2 linked regions of the Homo sapiens genome follow. The protein of the gene in region 2 interacts with the protein of the main gene of each other region in a pairwise test. Each region holds a gene or a part of one and is shown on either strand. Other genes may lie near its edges. The genes, in order: ELF2 and ZBTB32.

Region 1 (3,816 bases), on a different chromosome or scaffold from region 2:
TTCTAGTACATACAGTAATGTTGCTCTGGCTTCCTTCTAATGTGCACAAATAACCAAGATATGACATTTCTATTTCAATTAAGAGATACAATTAATACATACTATCTTAGATTAATAGACTGACCAAAAATGCTACAAATTTATTCTCATATCTCTGAGTAATACACAGGATTCTATTCAAATTAAGAAGTATGGTTGCTCTTATTGTGAATCCCAATGAGAAGGTGAGCCAGTATTTTTGTATCAAGTCAAATTAACATTTGGGCATTAAATTAAAATTAGGACAAATCAGGATTGGACAAAATGACTATCAAAGTTTTTCTTAAAGACTAAGAGGGACCACAAAAAAATAAAAACTCACACTGAAGGATGTGTGAAAAAAATGTCAAAAGCTCCCTTGTCTCTCTACCATGTGTGGTTCTCTGGAGTTACTGCCTATTTATCATTGAATAAAGGATTGAAAGTGGTCCTAACAGGCAACTGCTCCCATCTATCATACTCTGAAGGACTATGAAGGCTTATAACTTGCCCAGAGTTAAGGAAATAGACATGACAGTACAAATAGCTATTTAATAAATATTTGTCTATCTATAGTGGGTATTTTCTGTATCATTTGTTATGAAAATTAAGTATTTAAGACTTGGAGGCCTTGACAAATAAAGTTCAATTACTGCTGTCATGTATTCATGTGTAATGTACCTTTGAGAATTCCCAACAATTCCATTGGATTAAAAAAACAAAAAACTTTATTTTAGACATATGAAGTAGTATGACACGTTTAACATAAGAATGAACAGTTTACATACCAGGACTTCTTGAATCCCTCAAGCAGGTAGGAGATTCCATATGAAGCAGGGCTTCAGCAGCTTCAATTGTCTTATCTGTACAGTGTGCATTACTGCTGTGAACTGATGCTTCCACTGGAGGAAAAATAAGTTCTACTCAATTAAAAATACACTAAACACATGACTAAAACATATTACTAAGAAATAAACATATTCACTCCTGAAAGAGAAATGAAAAATAAATAAATATAAAATAACATGACTAACTCTAAGCCATTGATATCTATTCGTCTATATAAATTACAGAAATAATTTTTAAAAAGCTAATATCTACATTTTATAAAATGAATACTGATATAAAATGAATATTGATTATGAAGTAACCAATGACATTGATTAGAAATTACTGAGAAGTTGGCCAGGCATGGTGGTTCATGCCTGTAATCCCAGCACTCTGGGAGGCCAAGGAGGGTAGACCTTGGTCAGGAGTTGAAGACCAGCCTGACCAACATGGTGAAACCCCGTCTCTACCAAAAAATAGAAAAATTAGCTGAGCGTGGTGGCACATGCCTGTAATCCCAGCTACTCAAGAGGCTGAGGCTGGAGAATCGCTTGAACCCAGGAGGTAGAGGTTGCAGTGAGCTGAGATCGCACCACTGCGCTCCAGCCTGGGCGACAGAGTGAGACTCTGTCTCAAAACAACAACAACAAAAGAAATTACTGAGAAGTTTCTGAATCTTACTCAAAGGAAAACAAAGAAAGATCCTTGAAATTTGAACCCTGCATCAATTTTAGGCCAATACTAACTTGTGGGAAGGGAGGAAGGGTCAGGGAGAGGCTGGTTGTAGATTAAAAACCCTGTGAGGGCAATTATATATTTTGATGTATTGCCATTAAAGCCAGGGCACCTAACAGAACCATGCTGCGCTAATTTAATCAATTAATTCAATTCTTACAGACCCTCTTGAATGACTGAGTAGAGTAAGCCCTCCGTGTCCAAGGGTTCCGCATCAGCAGAGTCAAACAACCTCAGATTGAAAATATTGCAGGGGGGCCGGGTGTGGTGGCTCACACCTGTAAGCACTTTGAGAGGCCAAGGCGTGCGGATCACGAGGTCAAGAGATCGAGACCATCCTGACAAACATGGTGAAACTCCATCTCTATCAAAAACATAAAAATTAGCCGGGCGTGGTGGCGGGCACCTGTAGTCCCAGCTACTCAGGAGGCTGAGGCAGGAGAATCGCTTGAACCTGGGAGGCGGAGGTTGCAGTGAGCCAAGATCACACCATTGCACTCCAGCCTGGGCGACAGAGTGAGACACTGTCTCAAAAAAAAAAAACAAAAAGAAAATATTGCAGGGGAGGGGGAGGCAATAAAAAAAATACAACAATTAAAAATACAGTGTAAATACTACAGCATTTTGTATAAGGGACTTGACTGAGCATTCTAGGATTTTGGTATCTGCCAGGTGGAGGAGACATCCTGGAACCAATACCCCAGGTATACTGAGGGACAACTGTACTCTCCAGGCAGAGGTGACTAAAGATGGATAACAACATGCATTATATTTACTGCCAGAGTACTTGAGAACTTTCTTTATAATTAACCTCGCTCTCTTCAGAGCCTCAGTGGGTTTTAACCTAAGACTTTTTCTTAGAGTTTATTCTTCCCATGAGGCCTTCAAATTCTACCACGCTTTGTATCTCTCCTCTTCTAGCACTTCCTTTATGCTTTGCTGATTATGTTACTTGTAAAACAATGTGTACAGCAGTCAGTGGTTTGGGCTTTCAGGTCCAACAGCTTGGGTTCCAGTCTCTGCCACTTATTTCTGTTACCTGAGGTAAGCAACTTAATCTCTCTCATAGAGCAAGAATATGATAATTTCTTATCATTCCTGTAAGATTATAAACTTCTTGAGGTCTGGGGGGCTAGCTTAACCCATCTTTACATATGCCATGGTTCCCAACATAGACTTTTCATGGAGCAGACATGCGGATTTTTATTTTTATTTTTTTTGAGACGGAGTCTCGCTCTGTTGCCCAGGCTGGAGTGCAGTGGCATGATCTAGCTCACTGCAACCTCCACCTCTCAGGTTCAAGCGATTCTTCTGCCTCAGCCTCCTGAGTAGCTGGGATTACAGGCACATGCCACCATACCGGATTAATTTTTGTATTTTAGTAGAGACGGGGTTTCACCATGTTGGCCAGGCTGGTTTTGAACTCCTGACCTCAGGTGATACACCCGCCTCGGCCTCTCAAAGTGCTGGGATTACAGGCATGAGCCATCACGCCAGGCAGGTATTTATTTTATGTACTGAATTAAGGACAACCCACTGACCTTACAAGAAAATCAGCAATTCAAGAACAAATTTTATTATCTTAATAATATATTAATTTCACATCCTGACTTAAAATGTTGAACAGTTAACTTAGTAAGACGTTCTGAAACATGAATATTTAAGAGTCTCTAACTTGACAGATTTTTTTTAAGATGTCCCCTAAAGGAACTAAAAGTAAATGTTTATACAAATTTCATAAAGTCATATTACAAATTCATAAGCACTATACACTAACGATATGAATCTTTTAAAATTGTTTCCAGGAAACTTTTAATTGGGGGAAAAAATCCAGTTCATCTCAAAGTTCCCTAAATGCTAAAGCCTCAGTCTTAAACAACAGTCATTTGGAAAGCATTTATTTTAAAAATCCAATGACTGTTTTACCACCTGTTGCACATCATCCACAAGGTACTGGGTCTCTCCAGTTGCTCTTTCCATTTATGGAAATCTGTTCAAAGCTAAATGGTTCCAGAGAGGCAGCCAAACCTCTAAGTAAATCTATCTTTAGGTGACCCTGCTTACTCTTATCTGCAGCTTCACTGAAGCAAAGGATTCAATCAGCCTGTGTAGCTCAACTTTAAGAAAACTTAGCATTATTAAGTATAAGACATATTATCATTCTCAATTATTGTTTTCAAAGTGCCTCCCTACAATACTCACATACACTAAGAAAAAAAAAAAACCTTCAATTCT
Region 2 (3,297 bases):
CCTCGCTTCTTCCGCCGGCAGCCAGGGCGCGAGGGCCGGGACGGCGGGGTTCCCGGCCAGGACCCGGAAAGCGGGTTGCCGGGTCTCCGGGAGGTGTGGTCCTAGCCCCAGGCTCCTCCCATTGTTCTTGGCTAGGCCGGCGGCCCGCGTGGACTACCACTCCCAGGGTGCCGCGGGCTCGGGCCCCGGGACCCCCGAGGCCCTGGGAAATGCAGTTCGCGGCTGCAGGAGGCGTGGGCTGGAGAAGGAGCGGTGGAAAGCATAGTCAGTCTCCGTTCCAGGCGCGACCTGGCGGCGGCTTGGCACGGTGTGGAGGGAAGACGCCGGAGAGGCCGCGGTCTCGGGGTCCGTGTGCTCCCGGAGAGGAGGCGGGTGGCCGAAAGCAGGGTCGGAGCACGCGTTCCTCTCTCTCCCGGGCCGAGCGTTCCCAGATCAGACTCCGCGCGCCGTGGATTGCAGTGGAAGGGGCGAGTGACTTGCGGTCGCACAGCCCCCACCAGTCCAGGACCGGCATGCCGCAAGGTGTGCCCGGACACCGAGTCCTCGGGGCCGGCTGCCTCCTGGGGAGGACGGGGCGCCTCGGGGGTGGAAGAAGTGTCCATCCCGCTGGACAGCGGACGCAGGGCCACCAGGGGCCGCTACAGGACAAGGGGCGTGGGCGGGGGTGTGCACAGACTAAACTCGGCTTTCTAGTCCTGAAGGGAGGGCACAGGAAACTCTTTATTATGGTGATGAGATCGACAATCTCCCCTACTGTTAACCTTCGCTCCTGCACACTTCAGTGTCCTCACTCTGTAGGGCTCGCTGGCCTGGGCTTCTGCGACCCGCGATCGTCCAGGAGAGGGCACTCGGCGCCCTTCCTGGGGCGCTTCTGGGGCGGAATTTGCTAGGCCGCCGTAGCAGCGGTGCCAGGTCAGAAGCCGAGCCGGCCCGCTTTTCGTTCTTTAATTGGACTCTTGGCTAAGACGCTACCGACACCCCGTCAGGTGGTGGAGGAAGAAGGACAACAGGGAGAGGTCGAGGGCCGAGACGGCCTCGAGGAGGAGTAGAGGAAGGTGGAGCGGATGGTCCATCCGGGCGGGAGTTGGCTGGGCGAGTGACCGCGCATGTGCGCCTGCATGGAGGCCAGGCTGGGACAGCCGGCCCCGCACAGGGAGCAGCGGTACGGAGCGGCCCCGTGTGTCCGCAGGTGCTTGGTCATGGCCGAGAAGTCCCGGGAGCGCTGAGGACAAAGGCTACAGGAGAAGGGCTTCTCTCCTAGAGCGGTCGGAAGGGGAGGCCGGTGAAGGAAGGAAGAAGGCGGCGAAAGCTGGCCAAGTTAGGGGTGGATCGGGCCACGGGGCTAGGGGATTGCGCGGGAACCGGGCACACAGGTGGAGACTCAGGAGCGGAGTTGGGAAGAAAGCCGACAGTTCACACAGGGCAGGGCGCCCATACCTGTGTGGACTCGGTAGTGCGTCTCCATCTGATGCTTGAGTGAAAACCTCTTTCCACAGACAGAGCACGCATAGGGCCGAGACCGAGCAGGAGGGGCCGGGGGAGGGTGCGGGCGAGGTGGGCAGCCTGCCTTGTCCTCATGACCCGCACAGGTTGCAAGTGCGCCTGTGGGGACAGAGAAGGCAAAGGAGGGCAGGGCCAGGAATCCCAGCGCCAACTCACTGTACCATTCAGGCAGGAAATCAAGGGCTACAGTGGGGCTGAGGCACGAGTGCCCCCGCCCGACTCACCTGTGTGCCCCTGATCAGACTCTTCCATCTCCCCAGGGCTGAGCTGTGCGGGGCCCTGGGGGAGGGAACCTGGAAGGAACAGTGGGAGGTAGGGGCCCTGCTCAGGCTGGACTCCTCGAGCCCCAGCCCAGAGAAGACACCATGTTACAGGTGTATGCAGGACAGCGAGGGGCTTACCTGGGGTAGGGCTGGAGGAGGCCAACTGGTTCTGGCTCCAGAGCCCTTTGGGGGCATTTAGGGACAGTGGGATCCTGGGATGGGGTGGGGAAGAGTTACAGCCTTGGCTAAACCTGGGAGCCTGGCCCCTTCGTGAAGAGGGGGTATCCCAAGTCCTCCCCCGGGGGCTGGGCTTTGGCGTGCCCTGTGGCAGCAGCTTCTTGTCTCTTCCCCAGCTCAGGAACTGTGCAGTAGAGATGCAGTGCCCTTCCACCCAGCAGGGCTGCCCCTCCTGGGCCATGCCCTCCCAGCCTGGAGGCAGAGCACTAGACCCCGCCACTCACCTCTGTTCCCGCCAGACCTCCTGCCAGGCTCCAGTGGTGGGGGTGCTATGGTAGAAGGGAATGCCATATCTGGGCGGCATCAGCAGGATGCTCCACAGGGCAGGCTGGCCCCCCACCAACCAAGGGGCCTCAGCCCACGAGGGCCTAGGGGTGACGCTGGTTTGCAGGGAGCCTGCTGGGGGAAGGGGGCCAGGGAGCTTGCGCAGACTTTCCTCAGAGCCCCCTGGATTTTCCCTCAACCACGTGAGCACTCCATGCTTCCCATCTGCTCCCCTTTGGCCAACAGGGGCTTGGAGGCGTTTCTCCTTTGACCTGGTCTGTTCCTGCTGAGCCTCCTGCGTTGCTCCTGCCATCTCGGGTCTGCCTCTTGGTGGCGAGTGCTTGTGCAACATCTCCTGTTCTCTCCCACCAGTTCTAGAAACCTGTTCTGGTTTCTGCTTCTCTCCAGGGTCCCCCAGTTCTCTCTCAGGATTCCTTGAGGGTTTCTCTGGCTCCTCCTGATGTTTCTTCAGGCCTGGATCTGGCTTTTTAGCCCTGTCCCCTCGAGCCCTCCAGCATGCCTCTTCCAGGGACTGCACTCCCAAGGCCCTGGCCGCCTCCTGAAGGGGCCTTAGCTCTCCAGGCTGCAGCTCTACACTCTCCCCATACACAAAGTTCAGGAGCTGGGCAAAGGTAGAAGGGCTGATGCCTTCTCCCAGAGCCCACTGGCCCCTGCGGCCCAGCTGCTGGCTGACACCTGCTAGCACCAGGCTGTGGGCGGGGAACTCCTGGCTCCCTACGGTGATCAGAGTATCACAGAGTGCTGGCCGGAGCCTGGCTGCTAGCTGTACCAGCCGATCAGAGCCATAGGGGCTGGGCAGTCTTATGGGGGGCAGGGACATTGTGCCTTGGCTTGGGTACCTAACTCAGAGGCTCTAAGAGGAAGTCCACAGTGTGAGGTCCATGGTTGAAAGGGGAGGGAGGAACATCTCATCTCATTTCAAGCCTGTGGATGTGAGGGGAGAGGGTGTGAGTTGCTGGTCCTAGATCAGAGCCCTCTGTCCTGAGTGAGCAAATAAAGTAACCCAAGA

The links.
Region 1: the proteins of ZBTB32 (region 2) and ELF2 interact in a two-hybrid assay, tested with the Homo sapiens proteins (one large-scale study listed by BioGRID and IntAct).

What each region holds. Positions count from the first base shown.
Region 1 is NC_000004.12:139,072,648-139,076,463, forward strand, and holds part of ELF2 (ETS-related transcription factor Elf-2), read right to left. Parts: intron 921-3,816; coding exon 807-920; intron 1-806. UniProt on the Homo sapiens protein: Isoform 1 transcriptionally activates the LYN and BLK promoters and acts synergistically with RUNX1 to transactivate the BLK promoter. Isoform 2 may function in repression of RUNX1-mediated transactivation.
Region 2 is NC_000019.10:35,714,438-35,717,734, reverse strand, and holds the end of ZBTB32 (zinc finger and BTB domain-containing protein 32), read right to left. Parts: intron 3,213-3,297; 5' UTR 3,109-3,212; coding exon 2,228-3,108; intron 1,979-2,227; coding exon 1,905-1,978; coding exon of another isoform or gene 1,797-1,904; coding exon 1,728-1,796; intron 1,603-1,727; coding exon 1,438-1,602; intron 1,258-1,437; coding exon 983-1,257; 3' UTR 697-982; downstream 1-696. UniProt on the Homo sapiens protein: DNA-binding protein that binds to the to a 5'-TGTACAGTGT-3' core sequence. May function as a transcriptional transactivator and transcriptional repressor. Probably exerts its repressor effect by preventing GATA3 from binding to DNA.